2 linked regions of the Homo sapiens genome follow. The main gene of each other region encodes a partner of the protein of the gene in region 2 in a complex. Each region holds a gene or a part of one and is shown on either strand. Other genes may lie near its edges. The genes, in order: PABPC1 and PAIP2.

Region 1 (10,021 bases), on a different chromosome or scaffold from region 2:
TTGTCAGTAGCAAATTAAAGCCCTTAGCCAAATGCAATGTGGTTGTTTTTATCCATAGTTTTACTGGAACACAGCCATACCTGTTCATTTGTATACATACTATCTATGGTTGTCTTGACATGGTAACACTGGAACAAGATCATTTCAGAGATAACACAGTCCTCAAAGCCCAAAATATTTCCTATCTGGCCCTTTACAAAAAACATTTGCCAATCCCTGGTCCTGATCCTGGCTGCACTACTCAATTTCTTGGGAGTGATGAAAGACAGTAGTAGAGACCCAAGGGCACCACCCAAAAAGGAAAGGTAAAACTATGAAAGCCAACCTGTGACAGGTCATTTTATATATATATTACTATACAAAATCTGGCAGGGCGCAGTGGCTCACGCCTGTAATTTCAAGACTTTGGGAGGCCGAGGTGGGCGGATCACTTGAGGTCAGAAGTTCCAGACCAGCCTGGCCAACATGGCAAAACCCCAAGTCTAGTAAAAATACAAAAATTAGCTGGGCACGGTGGCAGGCATGGGCCTGTTAATCCCAGCTGCTCGGGAGGCCGAGGCAGGAGAATTGCTTGAACCTGGGAGGTGGAGGTTGCAGTGAGCCGAGATCGCGTCAATGCACTCCAGGTTGGGCGACAGAACGAAACTCCATCTCAAAAAAAAAAAAAAAAAAAAACACCACCTGAAAGTCCTGGGATTTTAAAAATCCAACAGTTAACGGGTAAAATTCCTTTAATTCCTCTATAGTTAGTTCCACTTTTCCTTGAAAAATTAGCAATACATTTAAATGAACTGTAAAATGATCTTTTGCTATGTACATTTCAAAATATGCTCAACAAACTTTATAAAAGATGAAGAAAACAAGCTTAAAACAACAAACCAGAGGGAAAAGCTCACTTTAAACAGTTGGAACACCGGTGGCACTGTTAACTGCTTTCTGGGCAGCCTCTTTAGCTTGGTGGGCTTGTAGTACAGCTACAGCTTCATCAACCTAAAAAAGGGGAAAACAGATAAACTGGTTCAGGAAAGGAATGGAAATAAAGAGTTTCATAATGGTAACATACCAATTCCCAACAAAGATAAGTTTCTTCCCTCAAATGAAAGTATAAATTGTTACACTAAACAACTATATCCATTCAATTTTGAGTTCTATTACACCACTATTCTAGAATTATGAATCGCTCCCCTGCACTACTCTTTCCTTGTCCTCCCCACACTCGAAAAATATTTCTCTTTCTCCACTAGAGAAAGCAGCAGCAGTTGAGAGTATGGCTGTTGGAGCTGATGGGATTTGAAGCCAGGCTCTGCCACTTAAGAGCTGTGTGAGCATTTGGCAAATTATTCAGCCTGTTTCAGTTTACCTATCTATAAAATGGGGATAAATAGCGCCACAGGTTATTATGCAGACTTTACAACTGTACATGGCTTATATATAACACGATGTAAGTGTTCTGTACAATTAAGTCCCCATAAAAAGCCACGTAATAACTGTGTAAGAGGCAACTTGGTAAATAAATTTAAATCACCTTAGAACGGAGTGACTCTGGAGACTCGAGCATATGAAGAAGTTCTGAATTATCAATCTCCAACAACATGCCAGTGATTTTACCAGCAAGAGTAGGGTGCATGGCTTGAATAAGAGGAAACAGCCGTTCACCTAGGAACAGAAACATTCAAAAACTCCCTTCAATAAAAAAAAGTTTTTAACTGCATTGAATTACCACATTAAACTGGGGTTTAAGAACCATACTTCTGTCTCACGTATATAATAACCCATAATCCACAATTTCATTATGTCTTCATGGGAAGACAGAATAAAATCTGCCACAAGGCAATTAACTCTTGATATTATCAGCTTGCCAATTAAGCAATGTTACCATTAGGTTGTTAAATCGGTGTTCAGGCAAAGTCACAAGTTTTCTTCTCATTTGCTTCAAATTCCTTCTCTCAAAAATGTAGTGAGGGCCCATGGTGAGTAATGCCCTACTACCCTATTTATTACTAACAATACATTTTCTTATTGGCTTTCCAGTGGTTTTAATTAGGCAGACCAACTGTACTATCATAATCATTCATGCCAATTCAGATCAATTCCACTGCCCTAGCTGTCAATTGATTGACCTAGTGCCTAAGTGATTCCTATATTTTCTAGTCTTTCTGAACTGACAAGGTGGGACAGAAGTACTCACCCAACATTTGCTTTTGCTCTTGAGGAGGGGCAGATGCCAACATGGAAGCAGTCAAAGGTTCCTGACCTTGTACATGAACAGCAGGCTAGACAGAAAATGAGAACTCTTAAGTTTAAAGCACAGAAAAAGATGGCAAATACAAATAGTCATCAATGGACATCTGCTGAAGTGGTAGACTTCCATCGAAACATGAGGTGGAGAAGTTGAGTGAGCGAATTAGAAAGAAGCCAAAGTAGTTATTATATACTATGTATCACAGATACATTTTTTTTCTTTTTGAGATGGAGTCTCACTTTGTCGCCCAGGCTGGAATGCAACGGCACAATCTTGGCTCGCTGCAACCTCCGCCTCCGGATTCAAGCAACTTTCCTGCCTCAGCCTCCCCAGTAGCTGGGATTACAGGCATGTGCCACCAAGCCTGGCTAATCTTTATATTTTTAGAGCTGGGGTTTCACCCTGTTGACCAGGCTGGTCTCAAACTCCTGACCTCAAGTGATCCACCTGCCTTGGCCTCCTGAAGTGCTGGGATTACATAGAGGTGTGAGCCACCACGCCTGGCCCATAGCTACTTGTAATAGTTGTTTCAGACCAGGCGTGGTGATTTAGGATGTGAATTTCTCGCTGCTTGTCCAATTCCAAAAGCGTAAGACATTTTACATACTATCATATTAGCAGAATGTTCCAGATAGGCTAAGCTCTCAAGAATCTATCATGCAGCTGTCTTCACATTTTTTCTTTTGAGACAGAGTCTTGCTGTCACCCAGCAGGGATTACAGCTTGCTGCAGCCTTAAACTCCTGGGCTCGAGCAATCCTCCTGCCTCAGCCTTCCTAGCAGCTAGGACTACAGGCTTATGCCACCACACCCAGCTAGTTTTCTTTGTGGAGACAGGGTCCTGTATGTTGCCCAGGCTGGTCCCAAACTCCTGGTCTCAAGCAATCTGCCTGCCTCAACCTCCCAAAGTGCTGGGGTTATAGGTGTGAGCCACTGTGCCCAGCTGTCTTCACACCTTTGATTTCACCCAAGAAATGTGATTTTTATTAAGAAATCATTAAATCCATACCTGTTGCATTGTAACTTGTGGCTGTGCATTAAGATGTTGCTGAGGATTGCGAACTCCTGCAGCATATTTATACTGTGGAACGGTGCGGACAGCAGGAGTAGCTGCAGCGGCTGCAGCTGCAGGACGTGGACCCATTGTCTGTGTTGATGTGTTAGCTAAAAAATAAGAACATTTTGTATTTTTATCTTGCTCTTTCAAATTGGTGATCAATTTTTAAAGGAAGGATTAAGACTCACCAACACGCTGTGTTGACATGACTCGTGGAACCTGTGAAGAAGCTGGTCTCATAGTACTAAATGGTGGTCTAGGAGCAGCTGGGCGGATAGCACCGGGCATATTTTGGAATGCTGCATTTTAAAGATGTGAATATACATTAACTGGGAAAACTTACTGAGTGAAAAGTGTTTATGCTGTCTTCTTCGATCTGAGGTTTGCATAAAAGACTAAAAAGTGACAAAACTTTTTAAAGCTGAGTCTTAACACTTGCCATTTTCCCAGACTCAGAGCATCAATAAGTAAAAACATTAATTCATACAAGGACGAGTACTTATATGTAGCGACCAGCCCCACAGGGTCGGTGGGCTTCTCCCTGTATGCAGCGACGAGAGAGTGCAGAAATAAAGACACGAGACACAGAGATTTAAAAAAAAAAGACAGCTGGGCACGGGGGACCACTACCACCAAGACGCGGAGACCAGTAGTGGCCCTGAATGTCTGGCTGCACTGTTATTTATTGGAAACAAAACACAAGGGGCAGGGTAAAGAGTGTGAGTCATCTCCAATGATAGGTAAGGTCACGTGGGTTACGTGTCCACTGGAGAGGGGGCCCTTCCCCGCCTGGCAGCCGAGGCAGAGAGGGAGAGGAGACAGAGAGAAAGACAGCTTACGCCATTGTTTCTGCATATTAGAGACTTTTAGTACTTTCACTAATTTACTACTGCTATCTAGAAGGCAGAGCCAGGTGTACAGGATGGAACATGAAGGCAGACTAGGAGCGTGACCACTGAAGCACAGCACCATAGGGAGACGGTTAGGCCTCTGGATAATTGCAGGCAAGCCTGACTGATGTCAGGCCCTCCACAAGAGGTGGAGGAGCAGTCTTCTCTAAACTCCCCAGGGGAAAAGCAGACTCCCTTTCCCGGTCTGCTAAATAGTGGGTGTTTTCCTTTGACACTTACGCTACTGCTAGACCTCGGTCCGCCTGGCAACGGGCGTCTTCCCAGACGCTGGCGTTACCACTAGACCAAGGAGCCCTTTGGTGGCCCTGTCTGGGCATAACAGAAGGCTCGCACTCTTGTCTTCTGGTCACTTCTCACTATGTCCCCTCAGCTCCTATCTCTGTATGGCCTGGTTTTTCCTAGGTTATGATTATAGAGTGAGGATTATTATGATATTGGAATAAAGAGTAATTGCTACAAACTAATGATTAATGATATTCATATATAATCATATCTAAGATCTATATCTGGTATAACTATTCTTATTTTATATTTTATTATATTGGAACAGCTCGTGTCCTCGGTCTCTTGCCTTGGCACCTGGGTGGTTTGCCGCCCACACTTATAAATATACCTGAAACATAATCATGATAAAATTCTAAGTGCTCCCAGCCTGGCCAACAGGGCAAAATCCCGTCTCTACAAAAAATTTAAAAAATTAGCTGGGCGTGGTGGCGTGTGCCTGTAGTCCCAGCTACTTGGGAGGCTGAGGCAGGAGGATCACCTGAACCCGGGAGGTGAAAGCTGCAGTAAGCCAAGACCATGCCACTGCACTCCAGACTAGAAGAAAGAGTGAGACTCTGTCTAAAAAAATAAACTCTAAGTGCTCTTGGAATATAACATACTGTTCCACAGGACAAGACATAAAATACCACGACTCTGATTCTCATACATGATTAAATGGAACGAGACCTTTAAAACTGTGGCCTGACAAAATATGAAATTGGCTGGGTGCCATGGCTCACGCCTGTACTCTCAACACTTTAGGAGGCTGAGGTGGGCAGATGACCTGAGATCAGGAGCTCAAGACAACCCTGGCCAACGTGGTCAAACCCCATCTCTACTAATAATGCGTAAGTTAGCTGGGCGTGGTGGCGGGCACCTGTAATCCCAGCTACTCCAGAGGCTGAGGCAGGGAGAAATCGCTTGAACCTGGGAGGTGGAGGTTGCAGTGAGCCGAAACTGAGCCACTGCACTCGAGCCTGGGGCAACAGAGCGAGACTCTGTCTCGAAAATAAATAAATAAATAAATAAATAAAAAATGAAGAGCTGTACCTATTCCCAAAACTTTTATAAAGGGAAATCAAACCACTGTAGACATTACTATCTTAGCACTGCTTTTAAATGCTATAAAAATGAACATCCATAACCACAAATTATGTGAAATGCAATAGTTAACCTAACATTGACATAGAAGAGCTGATTTACCCAATGTGTTATTTTTAACTCAATCCCCAACCTTAATTAAAAGAAAAAAGACTTACGATGAGGTCTGGCACCCTGAGCAGTCCAGCGAGGACTTGGTCTTAGTTGAGCAATTTGGCTAGGAGGATAGTATGCAGCACGGTTCTGAGTCTGCAGGGAAAAAAAGCACATGAGTTTATCAGTTGAAGAAAAAAGCAAATAATGCAATAAATTATATGTACTTTTTCAAAACATTTACCAGGACTTCACACTCAAGCATTTTTTCCTACTCAATCATAATTCCCCTTTCTTAATGTTTCACATTTGCGGGGCGAGGGGCACAAAAAACACTAGAAATGACCAAATACGAAAACCTTCATGGTTCTGGTTGCCTTCTAAAACCTACCTGTGGGATAGCTGCCATGAAGTAACCTGAAGGAGGTGCTGGCTGGTAGGGGTTGATTACAGGGTTGGGAACAGCTCGTACACTTGCCATTCTCTGCATATACTGGTTAGTGAGGTGAGCCTGGCGCTCTTCTTTGCGCTGAGCTAAAGCTACATACAATGGCTTTGTGGCCACAATTCTACCGTTCATTTCTGTAACTGCTTTAGTGGCTTCTTCTGGGGAGGAGAAACATACAAAACCAAACCCTTTGCTGCGACCACCCTCCATCATAACCTATTAAAAAAAAGAAAAAAAAAGTTAACGTAATGGTAGAATGAGGAGCAAAAAAAGAGCGTTACAATTTAGACAATTATAAATCACTGAATCAAATAACTAAACCCTGTTAATGCTTAATCATCTTGTATTTACCCATTGAGTTCACAATTTTTCCTTAATACCCAATTATTAAGGGCAAACTACACATATGCATTACCCTAGCCAGGTCAGAGAACTGACAGAAGTGAAGGCTGCACAGAAACTTTTAAAGATTTTAGATACTGAATTTGATTGGATTTTCAATATTGAAATTTAATTATCTAAATAAATACATCCCAGGCCTACTAAATTGACTTTTGGGCACCACTGGAAGCATTTCCCAATTAAATTTTGACTATTCTAACAATTCAAGCTGACAAGATGCTTCACTATGCCTTTGAGAAAAAAGTAGTTGAATCTTACAATACCCACATCTTAAAATAAAAGTTTTTACATTCAAGAGCAGAGGATCCATAAATATTACGGTATAAAGAACACTCAAGAGGAAGGTTCTTCTAAAATTGATTGCAAAGACCTTTTAAATGAGCAATGAAGACTTGCAAAGAACCACTCGCTAGGCCAGCAATATATATAAGCATGCTATAAAACTACATTAACAGTATGCGAGTGGCATAGGAACAAACGGTAATAAAACAGAGGCCAGAAATATACCCAAGCAATTATGGGAATTCACTGTGCTAAAGTTAACATTTTAAAGTACTGGGGAAAAAGGACTTTGGGCTACTCAATACATGACACACTGGGACAAATGAAAAAATGTAGAACTCTTAATTCACATTACATTGAAAAATCTTAAATGCCAGGTAGATTCTGAATCTGAACATAGAATGTAGAAATAGAGAGAAAACCTTTCTAAGATGACACACACACAAAGTGAGGTCTATAAAGTGGAAAATTCGAAGAAAATATTTCCAATATAAAACAAATGTTTGGCCGGGCGCGGTGGCTCACGCCTGTAATCCTAGCACTTTGGGAGGCCAAGGCGGGTGGATCACCTGAAGTCAGGAGTTCGAGACCAGCCTGGCCAACGTGGCGAAACCCCGTCTTTACTAAAAATACAAAAATTAGCCGGGCATGGTGGCAGGTGCATATAATCCCAGCTACTCGGGAAGCTGAGACAGGAAAACTGCTTGAACCCAGGGGGTGGAAGTTGCAGTGAACTGAGATCACACCACTTCACTCCATCTCAAAAAAATAAAACAAATGTTCCCTTAATCAATAAAAAGACAGACAACCAGCCAGGCACGGTGGCTCACGCCTGTAATCCCAACACTTTAGGAGGTCACCTGAGGTCAGGAGTTGGAAGACCAGCTTGGCCAACATGGTGAAACCCCATCTCTACTAAAAATACCAAAAATTAGCTGGGCGTAGTGGCACATGCCTGTAATCCCAGCTACCCAGGAGGCTGAGGCAGGAGAATCGCTTGAACCCGGGAGGCGGAGGCTGCAGTGAGCTGAGATTGCACCACCGCACTCCAGCCCAGGCGAGAGTGAGACTCGTCTTTAAAAAAGACAAAAAAAAAACACCTCATAAGTTTAAGAATTTGTGTTGCACTGCATTAAAAGCATTCTTGGGCCGCATGTGGCCTGCAAGCAGCGGGTTGGACAAGCTTGGCTTAAGCCCAGGAAAGGCTGAGGCTGCAGTGAGCTGTGATTGTGGCATGCCCCTGCACTCCAACCTGGGCAACATAATGAGATCCTGTCTCAAGAAACAGAAAAACATGCATGCTTCATACATTCAAAATATGCTGATGCACAACACTCAATTTAAACAATATCCAGGGAACACACTGAAGACAAAAACATTCAGGAATAAATTCTATCGTACTCCAATACTCTTACATAAAAAGCATAATCTGAAACACAAGACAACCATGGCACTTCCATCTTACTTGTATTCAACCACCTTTCCCCTAACATTTCCTCACTCTCACAGAAGCTTCCTCGGACTTGCCAGGAAAAGCTGACTAGAAAGATCAGCCACAGCGTCATTCCAGTTCAGTTGAGTTGTAATTTTTTTCTATGCACTCTTCCCCAACCCCAGCAAAATTATGTATGCACAAAACCTTGCATATAGGGGGACTCTTGGCCCACGGATGCTAGACAAAAACATCTAGAAGAGAACTTCTTAAATCAAGATTTCAGAATTTGTACTAGAATACTACTGCTTTGTTTCTTAATCTCTGATTTCAAATAAAAGAAAATATGATCTCTATTCTTACTGCTAGGGGGCAGGGGAGGGAACTGGGGCTTGACTACCCAGAATGAATTGTAGAAATGAATAAACAGATCAGAACTATAGTAACAATTATAAGTCCCTAATAAATTGCTTGCTTTAGCAAAATGACTAGTTGTTGGAATAGTGCATATCATGTGAGGATATCAGCCTTCCTTAGCAAAGAGTTCAGTGCTTGCCATTTTTAAGTTAACCATTAGGCTATGACAACCAGTTCAAATGTGAATTTAAGTTTTAGAAGTAACGAAGCAAACACCTCTCTAGTGGCTATAATAATACAAAATTTATATACATATATCTACATGTATGAATTTTTACTAGACCTCAAATAAATGAACCATATGTTTTCTTACCTTTGCACTAGTGATTGTACCAAATGGAGAAAACTCTTTCCGGAGACGTTCATCATCAATACCATCATCAAGATTTTTCACATAAAGATTAACACCCTAAAAAGAAGAAAAGAAAACTATAGAAAAAGAAAACCATGGTGGTACCTAAGTACATCGGGTCTATTATTTTACCCCATATTTCTTCTCCTATTCCCCTCTCAAACCCTCCAGCTACCTGGAAGTAACTGAAATCAACGTAAAATAGGTTTCCTCATCCCTGTCTTATTTTGGTTGTTCAATTAAAAATGAACCTGGTATCTGGTGATCCTATCTTGTTTCATCTGTTCAAATTTGCGCTTAAGTTCCGTCTGCCGTTCCACCTTTTTCTGAGCTCGACCAACATAAATTTGTTTTCCATTGAGCTCCTTTCCGTTCATCTCATCCACAGCCTTCCCCCCAAAAAAAAAGAAAAAAAAAAAATCACAAAACTTTCAACTTACAGTTCATTTCCTTAACAGTTAAGACAAATTTGTTAAGTCACAAAAGCTAAAGACAAACCCATCCCAAAATCTCAAGGTTTTGGGACAATATAGGTTACCAATTTATACTCTCAAACCTAATGCATAAAATGCAAATAACTGAAAATATAAGAACATGTCAAATAGCTATTAGTATGCACATAGACTTCAACACAAGAGCAACTCAACTTTGTACCCCCTTCTTCCTGCTGAATACAGACCACTTACTTTCTGTGCATCTTCATGCCTTTCAAAGCTTACAAATCCAAATCCTTTGGATTTTCCACTTTCATCAGTCATTACTTTCACACTTAAGGCAGGCCCTAAAAAATTTTTTTACATAAATCAAAGATATTCCATACAACATTCACGTTATACATTTCAAATTTCAACATACAAAGCCATGAAAAAAATTTCAAAGCTCCGTAACTTGACTCCTCCCTCCCAGCCTTCTATGCCCCAGGTAGGTATACTTTTCCATTGAAAGACCTTTTATTATTAAGAAGGTAAACACCTTCCCTCCCCTGAAGGATTCCTCCTTCCATTTAAGGAGGTACACTTTA
Region 2 (10,126 bases):
TTCCCCTCCTGAAATGCCTCTTAGACATATTGGTTTCCAGCAGTGTCCTTTTATATTGTCTATGGAATTTTAAAATACAGAAATCTTTTAGGTTTTACAATCTTTCTCCACTAGTTTCATCTTTTAAGAATTCTCATTAAAATTCAAATATAGGCCTGGTGCGGTGGCTCACGCCTGTAATCCCAGCACTTTGGGAGGCCGAGGTGGGCGGATCACAAGGTCAGGAGATTGAGACCATCCTGGCTAACACGGTGAAACCCCATCTCTCCTAAAAATACAAAAAATTAGCCAGGCATGGTGGCAAGCGTCTGTAGTCCCAGCTACTCAGGAGGCTGAGGCAAGAGAATGGCATGAACCCGGGAGGTGGAGCTTGCAGTGAAATGAGATCATGCCACTGCACTCAGGCCTGGGCAACAGAGCAAGACTCCGTTTCAAAAAAAAAAAAAAAAAAATTCAAGCATAGTTCTCTTCTGTTTCTTTCATTAATCTACCTCCATAGGCACCATCTTTTCTCATTCCCTTGGACTCTGTTTTGAACCACTGTGATCCTTACCTTATTTGCATATTTTTTAATCGTATTTTACGCATATATACGTTTAAGCATACTTCCTTTGGCAGTTAAAGAGGATCGCAACATTTTTCAATTGGTCTGTTTTCCACTCTGAAGTCTGTGAAAAGCACCGAATTTTTTGTTTTACTATTTGGCACAGTAAGGTAACGATTAAAAAACATGGGCTCTGGGCTGGGCGCGGTGGCTCACACCTGTAATCCCAGCACTTTGGGAGGCCAAGGCCGTTGGATCACGAGGTCAGGAGATCGAGACCATCCTGGCTAACACGGTGAAACCCCGTCTCTATTAAAAATACAAAAACAAAAGTAGCCAGGTGTGGTGTCGGGTGCAGCTACTCAGGAGGCTGAGGCAGAAGAATGGCATGAACCCTGGAGGTGGAGCGTGCAGTGAGCCGAGATCGCGCCACTGCACTCCAGCCTGGGCAACAGAGCAAGACTCCGTTTCAAAAACAACAACAACAACAACAACAACAAAAACCCATGGGCTCTGGAACCAGGCTGCTTTACTAACTGTGTGACCATGGCAAGTTACTTAACCTGAGTCTCGGTTTCCTCATCTGTTGCATGGGAATTAATAATAGTACCTAGTTAGAGAACCTAGCACATAACAATTGGCATTAACTATCTCGGTGATTAAATATTTAGGGCAGTTAAAGGTCTCTAGACCAAGGGACAAGGTAAAAATTAGAGATCTTAAATCTACAGAGGTGAAACAATGTCACAAGAAAATCCCAAAGTCTACCCTAATCTCAACTGTAGTGTAACAAGGGTAATTAGGTGAGAGCAAGAATGGGTCATCCTAACTGATAAAAGCTCAAGTACATTAGAAATGCCACCCAAATTTATACAAACTGATATAAGAAGCAGAGGCTATTCAAATTCTCCAAACGTGTGCCCATCCAATATGGTGGCCATCGGCTACACAGATCTATTTAATTAAAATTTAGTTCTTCATTTACACTAGCCACATCTCAAGTGCTCATAACCACACACAGTACCTACATCATTGGACAGCACCACTCTAAACAATGAAAAAATTAAGAAAAAAGGGAGTTTTTTGGAACTGAACCTTAGCCTATATCAAATGCAAACTATTCATGCACCTGTGCAACAGGTGGTCTAGATCACAAAGGCAATGACTTGGACAACTTTAATCTTAGACCACAGTCAGAAGACGTAGGTTCAAATCCCAGCTATGCTACATAGCCACCTTAAAGTACCCTAGACCTGTCACTAAATCACACAGCACCACATAATGGTTAAGAGCATAGAATCTCTGGACTATCTGGATTTGAATTCCGACTATCATAGCTCTGTGACATTGGGAAAGTTACTTCACGTCTCATTTGTTATCTTCATTTTACAGTAGGGCCTACCTTCTAGCTATGTTGTGGATCAAATTAGTTAATATTTGTAAAGGCAATGAGAACAATGCCTGGCATTATTGTTATATAAATATTTGCTAAATAAAAATAATCTTTCAGGCTTCTATTTCTTTAATTCCCAAATGGGCAAGATAAAACTTGCTCTGTTGGGAGGCCGACGGGGGCGGATCACAAAGTCAGGAGATCGAGACCATCCTGGCTAACACGGTGAAACCCTGTCTCTACTAAAAATACAAAAAATTAGCCGGCGTGGTGGCAAGCGCCTGTAGTCCCAGCTACTAGGGAGGCGGAGGCAGGAGAATCGCTTGAACCCGGGGAGGCGGAGGTTGCAGTGAGCCAATTGCGCCACTGCACTCCAGCACTCCAGCCTGGCGACAGAGTGAGACTCCATCTCAAAAAAAAAAAAAAAAAAAAACTTGCTCTGCCCATTTCACGTTTCATGATAATGAATGACAATAGGATGTAAATTACAAGAAAATGTTTTAAAAGCACAAAAGGTTATTAGATTACAAGGGGGCAGAGGTCTTGCCTTCCACATTCTTTAATCTCCCACAGTATCAACCAAATTGCTGTGCTAAGTGTTCAAGTTTTTCACTAAAACTGGAGCATCACACTCTAGAGTCATAAAGTGATAAACCTGAATAAAGTGCAGAGTGCTTATTTAAGGAAAAGCCTGCTATAAACTCATTCTGACCAAAAGAGGGTGAAATTACCTACCTCAATTTGAGTTCCTAAGGAGCAACGTGCACAGCCTTGAATCATTAGAGGAAATCTCCATTCCCTAACCTCCATCCCTTAAAGAAACACAAGTGGGTTCTATAGTTCTTGTCAAGTTACCTATCCTGTGATTTTGTGTGTGTGTGAAAAAGTTTTATTCAAGTTCACAACTGACAAGTAGTATAAACAGACTAATTTTCCCCAAATATCCTGTCTTTCACTAACTGGAAACAGAATCACAAAAGCAAATAGTGGAGTCTCATTAAAAATTATTGTAGAGAACTTTTACTTATTGCAAACACAACCTACGCCAGAAGAAATTTCAAAAGCGACTTAATGAAAATATAAACCAACACCTGATCTAACTGTGCTAATGAAATCTGTGAAAAAACAATGCCACCACGTTTCAACATTAGCCAGCACACCCAACATGAACATCTACTTTCCGTTGAAATAAACGTCAAAGGCTGTCAGCTGCTACACCTTCCAAGGCAAATTGGAAGCCAAATTCTTTCTAGAGTTTGGGGTTTTTATGAGTTGATACGGGTGCCAAATCAGGGAAAAAAGAAACAAAAGGAAGCAGGTAAGACCCCTTTTAGGAGTCCCTAAAAAATATCACTGCTGGCTGCTGCAACAAATGTTTTGAAGACCTAAGTTCACCACAAGCCTTATTTATTTCTGGTGGCGATGGTGGGGAAGGAGGAGAGTAAGCACAGAAAATTATTAAAAGGTAAGAGGACCTTAAAGTTCATCTAACTCAACGCCCTCCTAGGGTAAGGGTTCCCAGTACCCCAAAGGTTCTTTTTTCCAGGGCATGAGCTGCAATACAACCAAAAATAAGGGGTAGCGATGGCGAAGAAACGGGAGAAAGACGATCTTCTGATCAGGCCCGTCGACGGTTGCAGCGTTCCCCCAAGACGCCAAGAGCCCGCCAGTCCCTCCGCCCCTCTCTCCCCAAACCCCAGCCTCGGCTGAGGCGCGCACGCGCAGCAAGTAGGGGCTGCGCGTGGCGACGCGCAGGCGTAAAGTGGGTAGAAACAATAAGCTTTGTTGCCGAGGCGGTGGGAGGGGGGCAGGGGAAAGGGTACCCGGCGGAGGGATAAAGGACCGGGAGAATGAGGAACAGGAGAAAGTGCTATCCCGGCAACCCTCGCGCCACTGAGGACCCGGATAGAGAGCTGCGAGATCCAAATCATTAATAATGACAATGAAAAAAAAGCGACGGCCATGTCTCGGAGAAGACAGAGACGAAGTCGGCCCAAGCTCATCCCTCAGACTTGGTGGAAAGAGGCAATGAACAACGGAGGCCGCAATGGACTCGGTGGCCAACCACCCAGGGAACCCTTTAGGCCCCTCTGCCGTCGCCGACTTGCTGTCCCTCGACCTCCGCACCCCTGTCGCCACTCTGCCCGAGAGGACCCCTCACCCAATGCACAGCAGCGGGGACGGCAGCCAACGAATCCTGTCGGCCTCCGCGGATCTCCACAGGCAGCGCCGCTCCCCCGCTCGACGTGCGCTTCGCCCGCCGCCTCCCTTCTCCAGTCCAAACAAACACCCCAGCCCGGAAGTGACTTCACTTCCGTCGCCGCCAACCCCGCCCTCTTGTTCTGTCAGCTCTGCCCTCCGAAGCCACTAGAGAGCGCGCGCGAGAACGCGCGACCCCGAAGTCTGTCTCCAAGGCTGCACACGTGTGCACGCGCAGCAGCCTTTCCAGCGCGCCCCTACGGCCGGCTGCCGGGTGTAGCAGGAACGCTGTCGCACGTTCTCTCTGGAAGGCAGGAATGGGGGCGTACCACTGTTCCCACACCCGCCCATCTTCCGAGAATGATGATATGCAATGAGTGAGGCAGCTGGGGACTGAAGAGCACCCTGACAAGATACACAGGCGTGGACTTTCACAGACATCACACACCCCCCCAAAAACGTAATATTTAGGTAATGACATAGCACACACATACCCATACACACCCCAAGAATGATACACAATGTCACACAAACAGCGACATGCACCGAGTCACGTCAAGATCCTGACACAGAAAAATAATAAACTAAGGGAAATCACAGAGGCGTACTAAATGATATGCAAACATCCGCACTCAGACATGTGCAGGCACAAAAACACACTTTTTGAAGCTGGATGCAAACGCAAAATACAAATACATGTGCAACTTCTTTGTGGCTAAAGGAGGAAATGCCCTGTCCACACAGGATAGAAAAGTGTGACCTCCGGGTTCAAGAATTTTGTAGTCCGTGATCCTGGGTGCACTGGCCCCATAGTTATTCTTACCCATGCTTCCTTCCTGTCATCGTTGACAAGCCCCAAGATATATTTCTAGTGACACTAAGCAATGTAAAGAAGAGAGTATGTTTTTGTTTTTTTGTTTTGTTTTGTTTTTTTGAGGCGGAGTCTGGCTCTCTTGCCCAGGCTGGAGTGCAGTGGCGCCATCTCGGCTCACTGCAACCTCCGCCTCCCGGGTTCAAGAGATTCTCCTGCCACAGCCTCCCAAGTAGCTGGGACTACAGGCGCACGCCAGCACACCCGGCCAATTTTTGTACTTTTAGTAGAGATAGGGGTTTCACCGTGTTGGCCAGGATGGTCTCGATCTCCTGACCTCGTGATCCACCCGCCTCCGCCTCTCAAAGTGCTAGGATTACAGGTGTGAGCCACCGCACCCGGCCGAGAGTATGTGTTTTACAAATCTGGATGTTCAAATGTGTAGATACTATCTTTGAAAAAGGGACACAAACTAATTTCTTCCCTTTGGAGAGGGCAAATGACCGACTAGGAAATGGGTGCAAATAACTATCCTTTTCTCCTGAAAAATTTGAATCTTTTAAAAACTATATGCTTGTAGTATTTACTAAGACAAAAAATTCCCTCCATGGGAAGGCTTGAATTTAGAAACCGGGTTGTTCCTCTTCAGAGCTATTTCATTCACTGAATACTCTTCTGGGCCAGTCCAAAGCCCCAAAGAAATGAATGCAGATGGTTCTGCCCTAGCTCCTGGGTCAACCACCTTGGCAGCACTTACAGATCTATATTCTAAACTGTGAAGATAAGCTATCAATCTGAGGCTGAAGGAAGTCTGAACATAACAAAATAGGTATTTATATAGTCTGAGATGACTCAGACTCTCTTTTTAAGACACAGTCTTCCATCACCCAGGCTGGAGTGCAGTGGCATGATCACGGTTCACTACAGCCGCAACCTCCCTGGCTCAAGCAATCCTCAAACCTCAGCTTGCAAAGTAGCTGAGACCACAGGTGTGTACCACCATGCCTGGCTAATTTTTGAATTTTTTGTAGAAATGAGGTTTTGCCATATTGCCCAGGCTGGTCTTGAACTCCTGGGCTCAAATGATCTGCCCGCTTCAGCTTCCCAAGGTGCTGGGATTACAGCCGTGAGCCACAGGGCCTGGCCTAACCCAGACTCTCTTAAAAGGTAAGCATGAGGCCAGGTGCGGTGGCTCACACCTGTAATCCCAGCACTTTGGGAGGCTGAGGCGGGCAGATCATGAGGTCAGGAGTTTGAGACCAGCCTGGCCAACATGGTGAAACCCTATCTCTAATAAAAATACAAAAATTAGCCGGATGTGGTGGCACATGCCTGTAGTCTCAGCTACCCGCGAGGCTGAGGCAGGAGAATCGCTTGAACCCGGGAGGAGGAGGTTGCGGTGAGCCCAGAGCATGCCATTGCATTCCAGCCTGGGTGACAGAGTGAGACTCTGTCTTAAAACAAACAAATAAACAAAAAGGTAAACATGAGATAATTGAATTTGTTATTTAGTAACACAAGCCACTTAACTGGTTATAATGGTAATAAAAAATATTTGATAAATCATGTGAAACACTCAAAGGCCAATGCTGTTTTTCCCACACAAAGGGGTTAAGATCTCAATTTCCAGATCGCACTGAGAGTTCACCACAGTGGCTAAGCGTCAGGGGCCCAGTATTTCCTTGGCATTCTCTAGACATAAGGACACTCTGCTCACATGCAAAATAAACTTCAATGTAGCAATATTATACTTGGATAGTGATGGTGATGATCTATACATGGAAAACAAAATAATGAAGGCTAACAAGTTTGCTAATGGTAAGGAGAGACACTGCAATGGGACCAACAGAGAGATCCAGTTTTAAAACACTGCAAAAATTTACCTATCTGGTTCACATAGTAACCATCTTAAGATGGAGGTTGAAGTAGAAATCAGAAGGCCCAGGATGGCTATGAGTAGGCCCCCACTGTAAATTACCACCTTCCTACAGACCCCTCATTTCTCATCAATAATGTAAAAAGTATGTACCTTCTTACCCAAACATTCCAAATATAGGAATCTACCCAAATGGACAGATGTAAAGAGAGACATGTAAGAATATTTATAGCCTGGTTATAAAACCCAAAAGATCAAAATGCCTATCAACAGGAAATTGGTTAAATGAATAATGATGCATTAAAATAGTTATTTAAAATATGTATATTCATTGATATAGAATATATCAATGCTTTTTAAAAGAGCAGGTTGCAAAACAGCATGTTTGTAAAATCTTTCAAAATTTTATATGTAAACAGGCACGAGTAGGTATAAATGCCAAGTATCTGATAGAATGGTCATCAAAATGTTAATAGCAGTATTTCTGGGTGGTCAGATTTCTTTTTTTTTTTTTTTTTTTTTTTTTTTTTTTGAGATGGAGTCTCGCTCTGTAGGCCAGGCTGGAGTGCAGTGGCACGATCTCGGCTCACTGCAATCTCTGCTTCCCAGGTCCCAGTTCAAGTGATTCTCCTGCCTCAGCCTCCCAAGTAGCTGAGACTGCAGGCGCGCACCACCATGCCCAGCTAATTTTTGTATTTTTAGTAGAGACGGGGTTTCACCATGTTGGCAAGGCTTGAACTCCTGACCTCGTGATCCGCCTGCCTCGGCCCCCCAAGGTGCTGGGATTACATGCGTGAGCCACCGTGCCCGGCCTTCCTGGTGGTCAGATTTCAAAGGAGTCAATATTTTCTGAATTTTAAAAATATTGTCTAAATTCTCTAGGAAAGCTTGAATTGCATATTGCATTTATAAACAAGAAAACACACCCCCCCAAAATGAACTCTTACATAGGTTCCTATAGTGCTTCAGTAATGGTTCCTATGCTCCTTTGTATCAAGGTAGGCAGAGAATGTAGCTAGCTAGCGTAGGTATGTAGGGTTGAGTAAGGGCCTAACACTGCAGGGTAAGCAAAGGTCCCTGCTCTGAATGAGAAGGTGAGGGGATCAAGTATTATTCAACTTTTAAAATGCCTACTTATGCCTGCACTGATCTAGGCACTAAGGATACACAGACAGTAAGTGGTGGGTTTTCCTAAAAAAGTTGTTTAGTGAAGTTTAAAACTCACCTGGCCTTAAAGAGCCAAACTTGGCCAGGCGCGGTGGCTCACGCTTGTAATCTCAGCACTTTGGGAGGCCGAGGCAGGTGGATCACGAGGTCAAGAGATTGAGACCATCCTGGCTAATACAGTGAAACCCAGTTTCTACTAAAAATACAAAAAATTAGCCAGGTGTGGTGGCATGCACCTGTTACCTTAGCTACTCAGGAGGCTGAGGCAGGAGAATCGCTTGAATCTAGGAGGCAGAGGTTGCAGTGAGCTGAGATCTCGCCACTGCACTCCAGCCTGGGTGACAGAGCAAGACTCCGTCTCAAAAAAAAAAAAAAAAGTAAAATATTCTTCGGGTGGGCGCGGTGGCTCATGCCTGTAATCCCAGCACTTTGGGAGGCCGAGGTGGGTGGATCACGAGGTCAGAAGATCGAGACCATCCTGGCTAATACAGTGAAACCCAGTTTCTACTAAAAATACAAAAAATTAGCCGGGCGTGGTGGCGGGCGCCTGTAGTCCCAGATACTCGGGAGGCTGAGGCAGGAGAATGGCGTGAACCCGGGAGGCGGAGCTTGCAGTGAGCCGAGATCGCGCCACTGCACTCCAACCTGGGCGACAGAGAAAGACTCCGTCTCAAAAAAAAAAAAAAAAAAAAAAAAAAAAGAGCCAAACTTGTGTAGTTTGAATATGCAGCATGAGCAGGATTTGGAAAATGTGTAGGTGTAGAATAGGTAAACGTTTTTGCAGAATCATCATGTGTGCCTACAGACGTGCTGAATAACTGGAAAGGCAGAAGCAATTCCTCTTTTCCAGCTGGGAAAACCGTTCCCTGCTGACTTTGTGCAGCTCAGCCTTTTTTTTTTTTTTTTTGAGACGGAGTCTTTTTTTTACGCCCGTCTAATTTTTTTGTATTTTTAGTAGAGACGGGGTTTCACCATGTTAGCCAGGAGCAGCTCAGCTTTTTTTGTTGTTGTTTCCATGTTCTCCCCATGTTCACCTCTCTAGAAGCTTGCCTTTTAAAATAACATGGGCCAGAGATACACTTGGAGTTTCAGCAGAAGCAGCCAAAATCAGGAAAATGAACTAGGAGTTATCATGAAAGTCTCACTATCCTTCACACCAATCATCACTTAAACTGCAGTCCCTTTCCACAGGCTATCACACCATAAAGCAGGTTTCCCTATTCAAATAGGGCATAGGCTGGGTTCTGTGGCTCACACCTATAATCCCAGCACTTTGGGAGGCCGAGGCAGAAGGAATGCTTGAGGCCAGGAGTTCAAAACCAGCCTGGGAAACTTACCAAAACTCTGTGTTCAGAAAGAATGTAAAAAAATAGCTAAGTGTGGTGGCACATTCTTATAAGTCCCAGTTACTCGTAGGCTGAGGCAGGAGGCTTGCTTGAGCCCAGGAGTTCAAGGCTGCCATGAGCTACTAGTGTGCCACTGCACCCCAACCTGGTAAGGCGGTGACGCTGTCTCTAAAAAAAAAGGTGGGGGTGGGCCAGGTACACTGGCTCGCGCCTGTAATCCTAGCACTTTGGGAGGCCGAGGTGGGCGAATCACTTGTCAGTTTGAGACCAGCCTGGCCAACATGATGAGACCCCTGTCTCTTCTAAAAGTACAAAAATAAAAATTAGCCAGGTGTGGTTGCACACCTGTAGTCACAGCTACTGGGGAGGCTGAGGCAGGAGAGTCACTCAAAACTGGGAGGCGGAGGTTGCAGTGGGCTATCACGGCATTGCACCCCAGCCTGGGTGTCAGAGCGAGAACCCCTCTCAAAAACAAACTAAAAACAAAACCACCACCAACAAACTAGGGTTTATGCAAGTGTAGGAAAAAAAGTAAAAAGTGCCAGGCATGATGACTTATGCCTATAATCCCAGCGCATTGGGAGGCCAAGGTAGGGGCATCTCTTGAGCCCATGGATTTGAGACCAGCCTGAGCAACATAGCAAGACCGCATCTTCTACACACAGACACACACACACCCCCTACAAAAATTAGCTGGGCATGGCAGTGCATGGCTGTAGCCCTAGCTACTTGAGAGGTGGAGGTAGGTGAATCACTTGAGTCCAGGAGTTCGAGGCTGCAGTGAACTATG

Evidence for each region.
Region 1: the proteins of PAIP2 (region 2) and PABPC1 are in contact, whole or in part, in an NMR structure (PDB 1JGN), measured with the Homo sapiens proteins. Residues at the interface, in NP_001028284.1 of Homo sapiens: Val107, Ser109, Asn110, Leu111, Asn112, Asn114, Ala115, Lys116, Glu117, Phe118, Pro120, Gly121, Val122, Lys123, Tyr124, Gly125, Asn126; in NP_001425211.1 of Homo sapiens: Gln558, Lys559, Gln560, Met561, Gly563, Glu564, Lys580, Thr582, Gly583, Met584, Leu585, Leu586, Glu587, Ile588, Asp589, Asn590, Lys606, Glu609, Ala610, Val613, His617.

The regions. Positions count from the first base shown.
Region 1 is NC_000008.11:100,703,401-100,713,421, forward strand, and holds part of PABPC1 (polyadenylate-binding protein 1), read right to left. Parts: intron 9,782-10,021; coding exon 9,687-9,781; intron 9,390-9,686; coding exon 9,252-9,389; intron 9,058-9,251; coding exon 8,962-9,057; intron 6,332-8,961; coding exon 6,059-6,331; intron 5,824-6,058; coding exon 5,733-5,823; intron 3,598-5,732; coding exon 3,487-3,597; intron 3,406-3,486; coding exon 3,251-3,405; intron 2,274-3,250; coding exon 2,189-2,273; intron 1,657-2,188; coding exon 1,526-1,656; intron 991-1,525; coding exon 898-990; 3' UTR 897-897; exon of another isoform or gene 1-896. UniProt on the Homo sapiens protein: Binds the poly(A) tail of mRNA, including that of its own transcript, and regulates processes of mRNA metabolism such as pre-mRNA splicing and mRNA stability.
Region 2 is NC_000005.10:139,335,953-139,346,078, reverse strand, and holds the start of PAIP2 (polyadenylate-binding protein-interacting protein 2), read right to left. Parts: upstream 4,226-10,126; 5' UTR 4,099-4,225; exon of another isoform or gene 2,673-4,098; intron 1-2,672. UniProt on the Homo sapiens protein: Acts as a repressor in the regulation of translation initiation of poly(A)-containing mRNAs. Its inhibitory activity on translation is mediated via its action on PABPC1.